2 linked regions of the Homo sapiens genome follow. The protein of the gene in region 1 purifies or fractionates together with the protein of each later gene. This does not show direct contact. Each region holds a gene or a part of one and is shown in the gene's direction. Other genes may lie near its edges.

Region 1 (3,464 bases):
ATTTTACGTGTTTCTAAGTTGTTGGCTACATCAAAGAGATCATCTGTATTCTGCATATGGGCTGGCTTTGGTGAAGCTGATGACTGGACTTCTAAGAACCGTTTTCCCAAATGGGTTCCCATATTCATGCACCCAAAGCAATGGTCCCCAAGCACTGATGAAAACTAATATGCATTTCCCAAAGACCCACACTATGTATCAGGAGCCTGCACCATGCCATTTGAATGACCCTCAGCAATGTGCCTCCCTGCCCTCAAATTCCCAGTTGATAACAGTGTTTGATTAAATTTCCACTCAAGCCAAACATGGTTACTAAGAAGAGAAAAACCTGATGTTTGCATAATATTTTTTTTCCCCTCGAGATGGAGTCTTGCTCTGTTGCCCAGGCTGGAGTGCAGTGGCATGATCTCAGCCACTGCAACCTCTGCCTCCCGGGTTCAAGCGATTCTTCTGCCTCAGCCTCCCAAGTAGTTGGGATTACAGACATGTGCCACCACGCCTGGCTAATTTTTGTATTTTTAGTAGAGACAGGGTTTCACCATGTTGACCACACTGGTCTTGAACTTCTAACCATGTGATCTGCCTGCCTCGGCCTCCCAAAGTGCTGGGATTACAGGCTTGAGCCACCACGCCCAGCCTAAGATTTTATGATTAAAAAAAATTCAAGCTCAATACCCACATAAATTATAACGTTTCTCAGGAAGTAGTCCCTTAACCAAAACGTCTCTGAGAAGTGATGCTTAGGTAATCTCTGGGATCCGATTTTCCCACATGTCTCACTCCACAGTATGCTAAAGAAGAAAAAGTGAGTGGGCACAACACTTTGACCCTCTGGCTAAGCCCTGGGAGTCCCTGACAGGTCCAGAAACTTCTCTGACACCCATTCACCAGGGTGCTGAGATAGGAGAAAGTGCTCATTTATAATGTGTATTCTGTGCAGCTGTTCTCAGACAAGACCGGATCTTGTCATCTTACCTTTTGCTTTACAAAAAAGGCCTGTTGAAGTCAATGCTGTCTTGCCCCTTGCTGTTTCAGCAGGTTAGACTTTGGTCTTCACTGCTTATAGCTGCATTGGAGGCCAACGTAGCTGATGCTCAGGGTCAGGCCTCGCCCCTTCGCCGCAGGTCTCAGGATCGGGGATAACATCGCTCCCACCCTGCTCATTTAGAGATGGGAAACAAGCAAGAGCTTGACTTGCCTCCCATCCCTCAGCCTGTCTGTGGCAGAGCCTGCACCAAAACCCAGAGCTTCTTCCCTCCGTGAGGGCCACGCTGTCACCACAGTCCTCCCAGATGGGTTTTGGATTAGCATCAGTCCTGTGTCACCAAGTGCCAAACAGCTGAGGGGTAGAAGTGGGACTCCTTTCCCGAGCCCCAGCATGAGGCTGTGGTGTCAGGTTTAGGCCTCTCTCAAGTCAGAAAACCCCGGGCTGAGACCTCCACAGACAAGGGCTCCCCATGCTGGCCATTGGCAGGGGCCCAAGAAGTTCAGTGACCAACTGGTCCTTCCACACCACACCAGCTGGTGCTGCCCATGTCTGTCGAATCATAACGGAAAATTCCCCAGATCACGTTTGGATTTAAAAACTCATCCCTTGTCGTGCTTCAATGCATGCCATTTGTCACTTACCATACTTCACCATGGCCGAGCTTCATGTCACATGGCCTGGCGATTGTGCTTGTTCACACTGGGGCCAGGATTTTCATACTAAAACGTCACTGACAATGGGGCTACTTTTCTCCTGAATAGCTCCTCTGGGCTTGTTGCAGTTCTAGTTTTCCCAGTAGTTCCATGGCAGGTTCAACCTCTCAGTGTCCTGAAAAATGGAACCACCCACTAACCATATGCACTGGCTGCCCAGGTGGCTGCACTCCGGGGATCACGTTTCAGTACTGAGTTCCTTCACGCACTTGGTTCACCACCATCACTCTTGAGTTTTGGACAAAAGAGGTGGGTATGCCAGGCACAGTGGCTCACGCCTGTGATCCCAGCACTTTGGGAGGCCGAGGCGGGCGGATCACCTGAGGTCGGGAGTTCGAAACCAGCCTGACCAACATGGAGAAACCCTGTCTCTACTAAAAATATAAAATTAGCCGGGTGTGGTGGCGCATGCCTGTAATCCCAGCTACTCGGGAGGCTGAGGCAGGAGAATCTCTTGAACCCAGGAGGCAAAAGTTGCAATGAGCTGAGATCGTGCCATTTGCACTCCAGCCTGGGCAACAAGAGCGAAATTCCATCTCAAAAAAAAAAGGTGGGTAAAGGGCCATGAGCCCAAACCACTAGGTTGTTCACCTTTTCATCTGAAAATGCTTTACTCTGACTATGTGCTATTGGGTTTTATTTCCAGAAAATATAGTTCTCCTTTTTTCTGCATGAAGGATACATCGTGGTGCCACATGCTTTAAGCAATTTAAACAAGAGAGATAAGAGGAAAATGCAACCACCACATCTGACTTGCCCAATGTAGACTTTCCTTTATTAGATTGAAGTACACAACCTAATATGATATATTATTTTGTAGTATCTCAGACTTTGTAAATAAATGCCATTATTTTTATATGGAAATTTTATAGAAGAGCTATTTCTGTATACGTAATTACTCCTGATTTTCTGAAATTGCTTCTGGTAGATAACAGACAAGTCCTAAGCAGTGTTCCACTAAGGGTGGTTCCAGGCCTGCCTGCCGTGGAGTTGACTGGGGGAATTTTACAGTTTTGCGATCCTAGGATGCGTCCCAGACGCTCAGTCAGAAGTGCTGGAGGTGGGGCCTGGGAAGCTGTATTTGTAATGAACTCTGGTGTTTTTTGTCCATTAAAGTGTATCTTTGTCCATCCTATAAGATTAAAGGAAAGAAAAAGCATCTCAAATGAGTGTAAGTTGTTCTTGAGAAAAAAATGTATCAGACTTTTATGATTTGAATGAAATGTATTATAGAAAAAAATAAACACTTTAAAATAATGTTAGTCTCATTACTAGTGGGTCAGGATATTTTTAGTTAAAAAAGGAGGTGTTAGGCCATGCGCAGTGGCTCACGCCTATAACCCCAGCACTTTGGGAGGCCAAGGTGGTCGTATCATTTGAGGTCAGGAGTTCAAGACTAGCCTGGCCAACATGGTGAGATCCCGTCACCACTAAAACTACAAAAATGAGCTGGGTGTGGTGGCATGCGCCTGTAATCCCAGCAACTTGGCGCAGGAGAATCGCTTGAACCTGGGAGGCGGAAGTTGCAGTGAGCTGAGATCACACCACTGCAGTCCAGCCTGGGCAACAGAGTGAGACTCCATCTCAAAAAAAAAAAAAAAAGCCTTTTTTTTGTTTTTGTTTGTGAGATGGAGTCTCTGTTGCCCAGGCTAGAGTGCAGTGGTGCAATCTTGGCTCACTGCAACCCCCACCTCCCAGATTCAAGGGATTCTCCTGCCTCAGCCTCTGGAGTACCTGGGATTACAGGCACGTGCCACCACACC
Region 2 (3,389 bases), on another chromosome or scaffold:
AGTTTTTAAAAGATTATGAAAAGTGTTGCATAAGCGGTAGCTGCCTGAATAAAGGTGATCTATTCTAAATGAACATCAGCAAGATTAAGGAACATAATTTAAAATCCTTATAATGTCAAACTATTTTAACCATAAGCCTAGTTTTTAGAATTCTGTATTCTTGGGGTTTTTACAACGCATACTTCAGTGGTTTTGCCAATATTTAATGATATCATGAGTCTTTCCTCCTTGGTTTCTTTCTGAATACTCCCTGTGTCTCAGTCAACCTGATTTTTCTCCCAAGACTTTGTCTTTCTGATTGGTCAGGCTCTTTGAAGCCAGCAAGTGGCAGGAAATCTTTTTTAAAAACTTGAAGGTAATTGAGATCTAGGAGGTTTTAGGATTCTTTCTTGAGCTTGAAGGTAGTATGCCTAACTCAGAATCTACGTTTCACTTTAAGGGTAGTTCAGTTTCCTTTTCCTTAGAATGAAAGCAGAGGAGACCAGTGATGGCGAGTGAAAGACAGGGTTGAAGTCTCCCACAAAGTAATCTGTGTTTGAGGGAGAGGGGAGGGAAGGAAAGCACCACGGAGGCAAGAGTCACCTGTCAGTTTGGTACATTTTCTTTCCTATTATAATAGATAATGGAAACTAGAAAATAAAATGTTGCTTTTAGAAACAACAAAATCAGGTCTGACTTGGGACTCAGGCACTTTCCTTTTAAACAAACACCCTAGCTGATGTAGATAATGCTGATACTTTGAAAAATATTTCTTAAAGGAAATCCATCTAGCCTTTAATATGTTTTACTGAGAGCACATGTTTAGAAAGCATTTTGTAACCCCAAAAGTACTACACGAGTGTTACACACCTCCACAAAATAGAACTTAAAGACCAAAAGATTTTAAATGAGAGAATAGTTCCATATGTATGTATATGTTTGTTTTGAATGCTTTCCTGTAGTAATTATTTATATAGAACTTCCTGTGCTACTAAGAGAAGGCATCAAGTCATATGTCCATTTTACAGGTGGAAAAATGGAACCAAATACATTTAATCATAAGAGGGAAAGAAAAAAAGAGAGCTGGGAGTTCAGATTCAGTAGTAGATAATTGTCTTCTTTATTAAATTTAAGAGTAAAGGTAAATAATAATTGGTTTTCTTTAGTAAAACAGTCGCACTTGGAAAAAAAATTTGTTTTTGTGCACAAAGGAAAATAATGCCATATATCTTCATGTTTTATTTTCACGTATATTAGATAATATTGGCCTTTTCTTGATAAGTGAGTGTGGTGATGCAGTGTGCTCTGGATTGGCTTTGTCCAAAGAAGGAAGCCAAGATCACATCCCACAGAAGGAGCGAGAACTTGCGTCATGGGTAGAGAGGAAAACACTTAGCACTCTTTGAATAGTACAGTACATTGCTGAGTAGTGATACTTTTAACTACTCTGCAGTAGAAATTTTACTGTGCACATTGCTTGGCTCTTTCTACTATTTAGTTGTATAAAGAAGTGGAGGAGAAACAAATGAAGAATTTTGAGAACTACGAGACATCTGTAGGATTTCGTGTAATTGCGTATACTTTATCTACATAAAGAGAACAAAAAGGTTAAATCCTTGTGACATCACTTAGCATTTAATGTCAATATTCCTTTATGGATTTTTTTTTCTTTCCAACCTGGCTGCTTATCTTGTCTTCCTTCCGCAAGTATTTATTGAGCACCATTTATGTGCCAGGCACGCTGATACCTATTCAAAAACATGAGAACAGTTTGGGAGTGACTTCTCAGTAACATTGTAGACAGTATATCAGGTACTTAATAAGCATTCTTCGGTTTTTAAATTAATTTGAAATGAACCTAATAGGAATTGGGTTTAAATTTCTTAAACACAGAAAGATCTATGTGGACCTGCTGAAAAGGATGTAGTCCTAGCTGGGCATGGTGACACACACCTGTCATCCCAGCTACTTGTGAGCCCAAGGCAGGAGGATTGCTTGAGCCCAGGAATTGAAGGCCAACCGGGGTAATATAGCCAGACCTTATCTCTAGAAAAAACGATCTAGTCCTTAAGATTATATGTGGAATTCTTGTGAACCAGATTTCTCTGTCTGGGTTATCTCCAAAATACAGTCCACATTCACGCATTGAACACCTGTCTCCATTGCTGCTGTAATCTGGCCCAAGCCTTGACATCTGATTATCTCACACTTGGTGCTCAGTAACAGCCCCCTTATTTAATGCCTCCCTGCTGCTCCTTCTGTTCTCCACAGCTTGCCCTCAACAGCCAGAATGATAAAACTTAAGTGGCAGCACACCCCTCTCCTGCTTAATATGCTCCACTGGCTTTTACTGCACTTAAAATAATCTCCAAACTCCTTACTATGTATGGCCTCTGGGTGTCCATGGGAGATGGTGTTTCCCTGTCTCTGTATGTAGCCTCTTCTTGTTATACTTCTCTCCTTTGCTGCTAGGCTTTACCCTGTCACTAATATTAGTGTATCATTATCTTTCTCCGTCTGCTAGGTTGTAAGCTCCTTGAACAGTGCCTGAGACATAGTAAGCTTGCTTAGTGGATTTTTACTGTTTAAGGGAATACTGTTGTGAATCTTTATAATAATCACTCTTTGTGATTCTTTTTTGGATTCTTATGTTGGATTTGCATGCATGTAGCAAAACACATGCCTAGAAATAAGGCACTTGGGAGAATTGAGACATTTTAGAGATATAACAGCTGTAGTAATTGAGGCATCTTAAATACAGAATAGAAAAGGGGTTGAAACACTTTTCTGTAAAGAGCCAGAGAGTAAGTAGATATTAAAGGCCTTGTGGGCCACATGGTTTCTGTTACAGCTCCTCACCTCTGCCACCATAACAAGAAAGTAACCATAGATGATACATGAATGAGTCAACTTGGTGTGTTTCAGTAAAACTTTTATATGTAAGCACTGAAATTTGAATTTCATAGAATTTCCACAATAACACATGAAATATTACTATTTCTTTTTTTGTCTTCCTTTGCCCCCCAGTCATCCAAAAGGTTAAAAAATAGAATTAGCTCACAGTCCACAAAAAAATTGGTGGATTGGATGGCCCATGGGCTATAATTTGCCAGCCTCTGGGATAGAACAGCATTTTCTTCTGAGGGAGAAGTTACAGCTAATTGTTTACTTGAGAGGTCAACCAATCATTTCAGCAGTGTAGTTGTAACTAAGTTAAATAGCTGCTAAATAGCTACTGGCTATTCAGTTAGAAAGGGGGTGAGGATGACAGGCTGTGCAGAACCTGAACAGGGTTAAAGCTACAATGAGAAGCCATAATTTTGTGAGTTTTGCTGAGACCAATTCTCCATCCTGTCATAATTAGAGAACCCGATGCTGATTATTTTTTAAGTTCCTAAAATTGATCTTTT

The links. The genes of interacting proteins can lie anywhere in the genome.
Region 2: the proteins of TFDP2 (region 1) and CYRIB purify together in Homo sapiens (affinity purification with mass spectrometry; one large-scale study listed by BioGRID and IntAct). This does not show direct contact.

The regions. Positions count from the first base shown.
Region 1 is NC_000003.12:141,943,922-141,947,385, reverse strand, and holds the end of TFDP2 (transcription factor Dp-2), read left to right. Parts: 3' UTR 1-2,347; coding exon of another isoform or gene 2,348-2,376; 3' UTR 2,377-2,958; downstream 2,959-3,464. UniProt on the Homo sapiens protein: Can stimulate E2F-dependent transcription.
Region 2 is NC_000008.11:129,842,223-129,845,611, reverse strand, and holds part of CYRIB (CYFIP-related Rac1 interactor B), read left to right. Parts: intron 1-3,389. UniProt on the Homo sapiens protein: Negatively regulates RAC1 signaling and RAC1-driven cytoskeletal remodeling. Regulates chemotaxis, cell migration and epithelial polarization by controlling the polarity, plasticity, duration and extent of protrusions.